Regions from separate parts of the Homo sapiens genome. Here region 2 is linked to region 1. The links come from fine-mapping of genetic effects on gene expression. Tissue or cell type: whole blood. Region 1 holds a variant in brackets; the other region holds the start of a gene. All regions are shown on one strand. Distances are from middle to middle.

Region 1 (5,765 bases):
AATAATTAATTAGGCTGGGCATGGTAGCTCACGCCTGTAATCCCAGTACTTTGGGAGGCCGAGGCGGCTGGATCACCTGAGGTCAGGAGTTCAAGACCAGCCTGGCCAACAATGGTGAAACCTCATCTCTACGAAAAATAGAAAAATTAGCCAGGCGTGGTGGCAGGCACCTGTAATCCCAGCTACTCGGGAGGCTGAAGTAGGAGAATCACCTGAACCTGGGAGGCAGAGGTTGCAGTGAGCTGAGATTGTGCCACTGCACTTCAGCCTGGGCCACAGTGAGACTCCGTCTCAAAAAAAAAAAAAAGAAAAAAAAAAAAGAAAGAATTAATTAACCAGGTAGACCAAGTAGAGGTTAGTAAAGTTACTTGTTTTAGAGTAAGTAATTCAAGGAGAAAATATACTACAACAAATTTATTTATTTATTTATTTTTTTGAGACGGAGTTTCACTCTATCACCCAGGCTGGAGTGCAGTGGAGCCATCTTGGCTCACTGCAACCTCCACCTCCCAGGTTCAAGCAATTCTCCTGCCTCAGCCTCCCGAGTAGCTGGGACTGCAGGTGCATGCCACCACACCCGGCTAATTTTTTATTTTTAGTAGAGACGGTTCGCCATGTTGGCCAGGCTGGTCTCAAACTCCTGACTTCAGATGATCTGTCTGCCTCAGCCTCCCAAAGTGCTGGGATTACAGGTGTGAACCACCATGCCCGGCCAACAACAACAAATTTACATAAATTATGTAAAAATTTATCAGGGAATATATTGATTTATATATCACATTAAAATTGAACAAAACTAAGAAATTACTAGCATAATCAAAATACCAAAAAGTTAGAATGATAAAGCACACTAATATATTGAGAATAGGAAGGAAATCTAAATATTTTGTACAGAAATTTTCTTTTTCTTTTTTTGAGACGGAATTTTGCTCTTGTTGCCCAGGCTGGAGTGCAACAGCGTGATCTCGGCTCACCGCAAACTCCACCTCCCAGGTTCAAGCGATTCTCCTGCCTCAGCCTTCCCAAGTAGCTGGGATTATAGGCATGCGCCACCAAGCCCAGCTAATTTTGTATTTTTAGTACAGATGGGGTTTCTCCATGTGGGTCAGGCTGTTCTCGAACTCCTGACCTCAGGTGATCCACCCACCTTGGCCTCCCAAAGTGCTGGGATTACAGGCGTGAGCCACCAAGCCTGGCCTTATACAGAAATTTTCACATAAATTTTAGTCATATATAAGCAGAACAGGCCGGGCACGGTGGCTCACGCCAGTAATCCCAGCACTTTGGGAGGCTGGGGCGGGTGGATCACCTGAGGTCAGAAGTTCAAGACCAGCCTGGTCAACATGGTGAAACCTCGTCTCTACTAAATATACAAAAAATTAGCTGGGTGTGGTGGTGGACAACTGTAATCCCAGCTACTCGGGAGGCCGAGGCAGGAGAATCGCTTGAACCCAGGAGGCGGAGGTTGCAGGGAGCCAAGATCGTGCCACTGCGCTCCAGCCTGGGCAACAAGAGCAAAACTTTGTCTCAAAAAAAAAAAAAAAAAAAAAAAAAAGAAATGTTGTATTAATTATACAGACAAGAGCCTACAGATCCTAAAAGTGCTCTCATTACTAAAAACTTTGTCTTTATAAACTACAGATTTTCTCTGACTACAAAGGTTTTGTGGGAATATAATTAGGGTGTTATCAAGAAAATTTTGGTTGGGCGTGGTGGCGCACGCTTGTACTCCCAGCACTTTAGGAGGCTGAGGCAGGCGGATCATCTGACGTCAGGAGTTTGAGACCAGCCTGGCCAACATAGCAAAACCCCGTCTCTACTAAAGATACAAAAATTATCCGGGCATGGTGGTGGGCACCTGTAATCCCAGCTACTCTAGAGGCTGAGACAGGAGAATGACTTGAACCTGGGAGGTGGAGGTTGCAGTGAGCTGAGATCACGCCATTGCACCCCAGCCTGGGCAACAAGAGTGAAACTCTGTCTCAAAGAATAAAAAATAAAAGAGAAAATTTCACTCTCCACGGAAGTGACAGGAAGATATGTATCAGCGAGTGTGAGTGGTCATAACATGGTTAATCTGAATAAGCCATTTTATGACTTCTAGATGACATCCCACACACCTGTATTGATTCAGAATCACTGGACATCTTTCCAGCAAGGGAATAAAATACTAGTAACTGAAAATAAAATGTACCTATAAAACATGATGTCATTAAGTAACATTTAGGGATTGACATGTTTTACATCCTTAACTATCTTGCTATTTGTAATTTACAATTTTTATTCATGTAACTTAAGTATTTTTCCATTCACTAAATGGGACAGGAAGTTTTAACTCTTGCATTCAACACGTTAATGCAATAGCCCTGCAGCTCGCATTTGTAAATCATGTTCCCAAAAGGATAAAAATGCATATACAAAAAATGTTATAAGGACACTAAACATCTACTCAAAAAAGTCTTCTTGTTCTTCACTTTATGTGAGTAAAGCTTTTTTTTTTTTTTTTTTTTT[G/TTG]AGACAGAGTCTTGCTCTGTCGCCCAGGCTGGAGTGCAGTGGTGCGATAATTTCTCATCATCCACCCTCCATCACTTCTAAATTGTCTAAGATATGACAATTTCTTCTAAGATTTTGACACTTATCTGGGAATAGTAATTGTTTATTAAATCAATATTTGCCATGGTGGTTGCAATGCTGACATTCCTGCAGGTGTGGAATAAGACCATCTGATTCCTGAGAAATTATCTTGTATTCCATGATCCAACCTCCTTGCTAGGAAGTGATTATCATTTCACCTGTAGGTGCAGTGATAGTGTCTGCATGAAGACTGGGGATTATCTCTGAAAAACAGCTGAGGACTAAGCTAATTACAAAGTTATTAATGTGGATTCAGAGAGTTATCCATTGACAATGGCATAAGTAGCTAGTAAAGTTTCTGTGATGGCCAAGAACACATTAAGTCTCAGTGGATAGTAAGTAGAGGACAGTAAGCTCTAAGTTCTCAGATAATTAAGTGAAACTCATGGCTATCCTGAAAACTTGGCTAACATGAAATTCTTATTTCAATGAAGTGCGTATCCTTTCCATTTATGGGAACTCTGAGGAAGAACAAAAACTTGGAGAGAAAGAAATAGTATGGCAGGAGTTGAAAGATATGGAATAATAGAAGGGAAGCCATAGCGTATGTGTAGAAAAAAATAAACTTTTCCTCTATTGTCTGTCACACAACACAACAACAATCAATATGGAATAATTCTGTGACCAGATGTGCAGGGTGTTTTCCACACACACCAAGCAATCCTCCCGTGGACACAAGCTGGGGGTCCTCCAGTTCAACTCAGTCATTATCTACCTGCAGATAGCATCACATCCCCCAGTTTGAGGACTCAGTCACCAAGACTGAGGCTCCCATTTCTGATGACAATCAAAGCCCCAGAGCCTCTGCTTTTGACTGATGAGCTATAAACCACAAATCCCGTGGACCCCACAACTGGATTTGACTAATTTGATAGAATGGCACATAAAACTCAGGGAAAATAACTTACTGGTTAATTATAAATAGTACAAAAGATGCAGATAAAGAGATGCATAGGGTAAAGTATGAGAAAAGCACTTGGAGCTTCCATGCCCTCCTGCAAAGACTGAAGGTGTCTTAAGCAACAAGGCCTTTATTATAACACAAATCAGGGCAATAGGTGGCAGGCTGTCTGAGATTCATGACTGGCAGGCTGGAAAATTCCATCTTAAGAACTCTGTGAGATCCAAAAGATCCCTGAAAAAGGTAGTCCATTTTTTCAAGTTATCAGAAGAGTCCTCTGTGCCAAAAATGAGTCAGGTTCATGGCCTAACTCATTGGAGAGAAAGAAATGAGAATAGAATGAGTGCTGAGGATACTAAAAAATCCCTCTGTTGAATGAAACAAAATCAAAGTTACTTCTGGATCATGATGAGTTAGGCGAATGATGTACTGTGGGCACCTGCCAAGTGGTAAAGGTGAAATGCTTTTTAGAAGAGAACTGTAAGTCACAGAAGTCTAGCAAGAGACCTGGGCAGGTCGAAAAATACTATGCAGTTCCCACATACCTGGAATGTATGCAGCTATTTGATGTATGACATTCAATTTAGGCAGATGGCATCCTCATAAGGGGTTTCCTCCAGTGTTATATTGAAGAAAAAATAATATTACCTCCACATCTGTGGTATTTTCCTCATGTAAATATTGTGGTAACCAATGAGAGAGGGCTGAAGGCTTTCTCACATTCATTGCACTCAAAAGGCACTTCTTCAGTGGGAGCACTCTTTTATGTAAAGAAGCTAGCATTCTAGCTAAAGAATATTCCCCATTTGTCACACTCATAACACCTTGATCTGGTGTGAACTCTCTGGCCTTGAAGGAGCAAAAAGCCTGGGCAAGAGAATTTCCAAAATTTGCTTCACTTATAAGGCCTCATTCCAGTATGAACTCTCTGATGGCGACGGAACGAAGAACTGTGGCGAAATGATTTTCCACAATCAATGCATTCATATGGCCTTTCTCCAGTGTGAACTCTCAAGTGTTTAATAAGGCTGGAGTTTTCAGCAAAGGATTTCCCACAGTCACTGCACTCATAAGGCCTTTCTCCAGTGTGAACTCTCAGATGTATAATAAGGCTAGATTTTCGGCTAAAGGATTTCCCACACTGCCCGCACTCATGCCTTTCTCCAGTATGAACTCGCTGATGGTGAATGAGGTTGGACCTTAAGCTAAAGGATTTCCCACATTCACTACATTCATAAGGCCTTTCTCTAGTGTGAACTCTCTGATGCTGCAAGAGTGAAGAGCTTCGGCGAAATGATTTTCCACACTCAACGCATTCATAAGGCCTTTCTCCTGTGTGAACTCTCAAGTGTTTAATAAGACTGGAGTTTTCAGCAAAGGATCTCCCACATTCACTGCACTCATAAGGCCTCTCTCCAGTGTGAATCCTCCTGTGTTTAATGAGACTAGATGTATAAGCAAAGGACTTCCCACATTCATTGCATTCATAACGCTTTGCTCCAGAGTGAACTTTCCTGTGGTTAATGAGACTGGACTTTTCAGCAAAGGCTTTCCCACATTCAATACACTCATAAGGCCTTTCTCTAGTGTGAAGTGTCTGACGCTGCAAGAGTGAAGAGCTTTGGTGAAATGATTTTCCACACTCACTGCACTCATAGGTCTTTTGCCCAGTATGAAATCTCTCATGAATATGGAGTGTAGGCTTTTGGTGAAATAATTTCCCATATTTGCTGCACTCATAAGGCCTTTCTCCAGTGCGAACATTCCTGTGTTTGTGATCTCTTCTGGGTTCAGTGAGGCAGGACTTGTTCTTAAATAATTTCCTATATTCCCCACACTCATAAGGCCTTTCTCCACTATGACCTCCCTGGTCTTTGTATATATGTATACACGTGCTCTGCTTAGAAGGTGCTGCCTCATCTTCCCCTCCATGCCAACAACCTAAAAGCAAAGAAATGCTGGTGAGGTACATGTTGACTTTGTTGAGTATGCAGCCTACCCACAAGAGTATCTGACAAACCAAAAAACTAGTCTATGGAATTATTTGCACAAACAGGGAGTTGGGTTCAGGTTGAGGTTGGGGCTGCTTAGCATTATCACAGATATAGAAGGCCTCATATTGTCAAGGGCATGACTAAATGAGTCAACAGACAGAATAAAGGCAGGGTCTATAACTCCTTCATTTGCAAACAACTTGCCTGTGGAACCTTATTTGCTGATGACGTGTGAGTAC
Region 2 (5,765 bases), 35 kb after region 1:
GGGAATTGGTTCTCAGGTCATTTGAGGTCATACCAATATCACTAGATGTCAAGGTGACACATCATATTGGGCCTCCATTTTTGGCTTTATACCACAATATGGCTGACAGCATCCAATATGCTTCACATATTCAAACAGGATCCAATAATAACACAAAATGACCATGGTTCCCATTAGCAGTGGTAGTCCCTAATAATTCTATGAATGCCTCCTTGCATTACTCCACATCCATGCAAAACCACATGTAACTTCAGATATCCATGGTCTTATTCCACTTCTGTGCTACAATGGCTTACCCTTCAGCAACACGGACCAACTTCCATTCACCTAATACCATTGCCATTTAAAGAGCAGTCCTGGATGGGCATGGTGGTTCACACCTGTAATCCTAGCACTTTGGGAGGCTGAGGCAGGTGGATCATGAGGTCAGGAGTTCGAGACCAGCCTGGCCAATATGGTGAAATCACATCTCTACTAAAAATACAAAAAAAAATTAGTGGGGCGTGGTGGCACGCAACTGTATTCTCAGCTACCGGGAGGCTGAGGCAGGAGAATCACTTGAACCTGGGAGGTGGAGGTTGTAATGAGCCAAGATTGCGCCACTATACACCAGTACACCAGCCTGGGCGACAGAGTGAGACACCGTCTCAAAAAAAAAAAAAGTCCTGTTTTTAATCCATTTAAGGCCCAAGACCTACTGTCACAGATGACCATATTTCTCCCTGAGCATATTCAGCACGTGTAATGAAACCCCCCACACACTACCAAAGTCATCTCAAATCTTGATTGCACAGAGTGGTGAATAAGTACCACTCTGGCCTAAGTGTCATCTTCCCTCAATTTGACTACACTTCTGCATATATCTATTTCATGTCTATTCTCTCCTTGAAAGTCTATGTCCCCTGTCAAATTATGCTGACAGGTATACCCTACCATCATGGTCACTTACCTACCTCTCCAGTGTTTAGGAAGCCCAGTAACATTACCCAGGGACCCAAGCAACAGATGCAGTCCTCATCATTCAACCACTGCTTTCTGGTCCCCTAAAAGATTTACCACCAGAATCTGAAGTGTGTTCTCCTTAATGTGACCCATGGCTCACTCACCATAGCATACACATTAGCTACCATATATTAGATGTCTCCAGTGTCAATCCCTTTCCAGATACCCCAACCTGCATGTCCATAGCCATTTGATGCCTACACTTATTCGTCTCTGACTCTTCATATGGCCATAACAGTCATCCTGATATTTGCATAATATTCTAATTATGTTTATTACCAACATGCTCATCTCAGCTGATGCAGCTTCCATAGCTACAGCTACTAAGACCAAAAACCTCGGGATCCTGATTGCTCTCTTCATGCCCTTACTTTGTGTATTAGGAAACCTAGATGCTGTAACAAAATATCAACTTTGAATCCAGCCACATCTCCTTAGCCATGAATCTTAGTCTGTTAACCCTCACTTGGATTACGGCAAAAGCCTCAACTCTCATCTTATTTCCTCCTCTCTCAACCCCACAGTCTGTTCTCCACTGTACAGCCAGAGGAGACTACAGCCAGATGAAACTGTGGCAACATCACCTCCTCCCTCTGGTCAGTTTCACCTCTAAGCATTTCACATCCTGGTACTAACTCCTGGGTTAACCTTCCAAGTATGTTTATACTGGTTGACAGAAATGGGAATACCTCCATATATCCTGTGTCACAGACTTTGGATCCTGGGTTTAAGGTTCCTCCAGGGTTCCCATATCAAAAAACTTAAAAAAAAAAAAAAAAAGGTACCTAAGAATCCCAGGACATCCCAATCTAAAGAGCATGTGGATAGGAGTTAGGGCCAGTGAGGGAATAACACCCTCCGCTTCCCTGCGGAGGTTCTGCAAGTGCTTCTGCAGCCAGGAGTTCCTGAGAGGAGAGGCACAAGCTACAAGAATGTATCCCTGATGAGATTTGATAAGCTCAGGCCTCCCTGAACTCTTTCTTGGCCCTGTAACTAGGTAAACGCGAGTTGGTTGTCTGAACTGAGCGCCTCAGTACAAAATGTCATCTCTTAGCACCTATCTGATCTGTAGAGGTTGAACAAGAATTCAACCTCCCAGGGCCCAAAAGTCATCCCCTGTGTTCTTTTTCGACTGGACTTTGGGAAACCTTTAAAGCCTGGACATTGATCTTTTCCTTCCTTTGTTGGAAGCTGTCCATGGCTTCCAGCGTTCTCAGGGTGAATACACGGTCCTCAGCCTGCTCTTCCAGGAGGAGCTCTGCCTCACACTTTGCTCCCGACAGGTGCCTGTGGACCCTAGGTTACGATCCTCTCGGCTCAGTTCATCTCCAGGCCTTTGCCTGCACCGCTCCCTGTGCCTGTAGCTCTCCTGAGCGCATCCCGCGGGTGTCAAAAACGGGGGCCCATAGAGAGCGCCTCAGTGTCCCGACGCCGGGTTCAGGGTGTAAAACCTTGAGCAGGCGCCGCTTCCTCTCTGCTTTTGGACTTAGGTAAAGATGAGGTGACCTGAGGGCACGGAAGACGCCACAATTACCTGAGCCGGGGGCCTCAGCGCGGCCGCCGCCATCCGACTGGGTGGGGAAAGCGGGGTCGAAAGGAGGGGGCGAGCAGTGCAGGTACCCGGGCACGGTGGTCCCGATCCCGGCCTTGGTGCGGGTCACGCCTAGCGCCTTTAAGGAGCTGCAGAGCAGCCTCTGTGCAGTCGGGACAACGTCTCGTCTCCACCTTCTGGGTTCAGTCACTTCTACACGACCCAACACTCCGCGGTCTCTCACTGGAAAATACACCCAACACCAATCAAAATGGCCACTAGTAGAGGACGCCGGAAGTCCCACCTTTATACTGTTTCCGCGGAAACGCCTTTATTTTGAGCCCTCATTGGCTCTGACGCGCTGTCATTCGACGCAGAGATTTCTGGGTTATGTAGTTTCCTCAGGTTCCAAGACAGTTCCAAGGCGGTAAAGAAGGCCTTCTCAGAGGCGCTTGATTGCACAGAGTGGTGAATAAACACTACTCTGGCCTAAGTGTCATCTTCCCTCAATTTGACTATACTTCTGCATGTATCTATTTCATGTCTATTTTCTCCTTGAAAGTCTATATCCCCTGTCAAACTATGCTGTCAGGTATACCCTACCATCACGTTCACTTACTTGCAGGAAAGGCCCAGCTCCATCTCAGCGGCCTGTCCTTAAAGTGCATGTCCTTCTAGGGTAGAGGATAGTCTCACCTAGCCTTAGAACCCGTATTGAGATTTTTGGAGATTAGTGTCTGTAACTGATCACTCAAGTATTTGAAAAAATATTATTTTAGATTTTGGGGAACTCGAGCTCTCCGATGCTAAACTTATTATTTAGGATGCCCCCAAAGACTAAAAATCCAAATTATCATAACGTTTTGAACAGTCTTTCAGTCGCAAAATCCCGGTACTGGCAGCAGAGGCTGATAAACATTATTGTGTTATAAATTCACATGAATGCACTCTGAGGCATTAGAGTCAGTTTCTCAGTCTGTCAGGGACAAGAGAGAACTAATCCAGATAGGACAAGACAAGGAAGATAGAGGAGAAATGTTGTGTTCCCTAAAGCAGGAATACATGCTGAATCTCTGTCTGTGATTCCCACAGAAGACAACTCTCCTGCCTATAAAATCAATCATAGTGTCCAGTACATTGAGCAACACTTTTATCCACTTAGTATCCCTCGCTTGAGATTCCAACTTATATTCAATTAATTCTGGATTAATTTATCTAAGATTTATCAATCTTACAGGAAGACCAATGAAAGAAATGCTATTTTGGTAGTGATAAATGGCTGCAGTTTTCAAAGGTGGGGCACGTATGCAGAAGATGCTCTCCACCTGTTGATATTGGTTGTGTCTTAAATCCAGGAGTTCATGTTATTGCTGGGAAGTGGCTATTTTTTTTTTTTTGTATTAGATAAAACAGACTTTATTTATTTCTTTTCTTTTTTTTTTTTTGTGACTATTCTTTATTTCTGTTTCCATGGCAAGGAGTGTTTTGCCTAATAAATTAATGTTATGGATGGGATTACAGGCATGAGCCACCATACCTGGCTAATTTTGTATTTTTAGTAGAGACGGGGTTTCTCCATGTTGGTCAGGCTGGTCTCGAACTCTCAACCTCAGGTGATCCACCTGTCTCGGCCTCCCAAAGTGCTGGGATTAAAGGCATGAGCCACTGTACCCAGCCGCTCAGTTCTTAAAAAACCTATGTCTTCTATGTTCAGGGAGAAGAGGCATTTAGAGCAAGAGCTTACTCATTCTCCATTTCTGCTCAGAAATAAAACTTGCTTGCCTTTTTTTTTTTTTTTCCCAAATTGGGTGTTCTTTTTTTTGTGACCAATACAAAGTAGGGAAAGAACTCAGTTTATTGGTAGTACAACTTAAAAAAAAAAAAGCATGTTTAACATTCCAACTTTCATAGTCCTGTCAACTTTTACTTTATGTTGTAGTCCCAGGACTCTTCTCTCCAGACCATTTTACCCTTTCTTGTGCAGATGTCTTCAGGTTTCCACCCAGGGTTCAGGCCAGGAGACTTTGGCCTTTTTTCCAAGTGCTACCTTGATTAACCAGTCTAACCATCACCCTAGGCATTCCAGGTGGGGTTTCTCATTATATCTTTACCTTCTGGCTTTTAAAATTTATCCAAACTTCAGGAACTACAGCAACTTAGCTTAAGGCCCTTTAATGTTGGGGGATCAACAGGAACTTCCTTTGGTCCACCCAACCTTCAATAGTGTTATATTCAGAATTTTGTTTTAATCCGATCAGTTTTTATTTTATTCATCTAATTTCCATCTAATAGCCATCTAAAGATTTCCACCATGCTGGGATGAGTATCATGATTTCCCCCTTTTCTTTTTCCTCTTAGTTTCATTCCTATCCATGTTTTCTTTATTTGTCTTATTTCTTTATAACTATTTAAAAATTTCTACCTTCCTGGAAGGAGCTGTTTGACTCTCCCCTGTACCTTTCATCATTGTCTATCTTATTAATTAATCTAATGGTTTTATTAGCATCTGAAAGGCCCATAATAGGAAGCAAATTTGGTAAGACTGACTATAGCTCAATTTTGCAGCAGTAAGTTTACATAAGGTGCCCAAGAAAATGGGGTTCCCCAAACCAAGACATTTACCATGACCTGGGTAATAAACATATTCAGTAGGTAAATATTCCTATCATCATAATGCCAGTTCCACATGGCTTGCATGGGAAGCATATTAAGCTGGTTCATCTGGGGAGCCCCACTTGGCATTTATAGGGGGAGTCAGACAGTCCCGCTTTTCCGAGTAGACAGACTTCAGAGTAGCTTTTATACACCCACCCAGGCTGGCTGTTCCTTCAGGAATAAACTCTTGTGTGTGTGGATGATACATACCTATCTGCAATTGTTGAAGAGTGACCTGTAGGTACTACATCAACCCAAACATGTTCTTCCACTCTGCATTATTTAAAACCAAAGATGTTTCCCCTAAGTTAGTTATTCTCACTATCCATGTTAGTAAAGGTTCCTGAGGAAGCTGACGATACTGGTCTATAAAATGAAACAATTCCTCCACACTATTGATATAGAACCAGGCCTGTTCTGTCCATCTCACAGTATGCCAATCACTGAGATGATGAGTCTTGCAGCAGAGAAAGCATGTATTTACAAGGCTGCCAAGTGCAGAGGTGGGAGAACAGTTCTCAAATCTGCCTCTTTGATGATGGGATTTAGAGATATTTATGGGATAAAGAAGCCTGTC

Evidence for each region. PIP is the estimated chance that this variant, and not a neighbour inherited with it, causes the effect.
Region 2: ZNF776 starts here. The variant in region 1 is fine-mapped to the expression of ZNF776 in whole blood (INTERVAL, PIP above 0.99).

The regions. Positions count from the first base shown.
Region 1 is chr19:57,778,459-57,784,223 of GRCh38, reverse strand. It overlaps ZNF586 (zinc finger protein 586), which reads right to left. Exons shown (of 3, transcript NM_017652.4): 3 at 3,608-5,473. The coding sequence ends at 4,428. Among named protein-coding and RNA genes, the nearest start is that of ZNF586, 12 kb to the right of the region's middle. The variant G/TTG (reference allele first, on the strand shown) is at 2,512.
Region 2 is chr19:57,743,863-57,749,627 of GRCh38, reverse strand. ZNF776 (zinc finger protein 776) reads right to left here and starts at 2,813. Exons shown (of 3, transcript NM_173632.4): 1 at 2,537-2,813. The coding sequence starts at 2,569. RefSeq lists an enhancer at 2,752-2,801.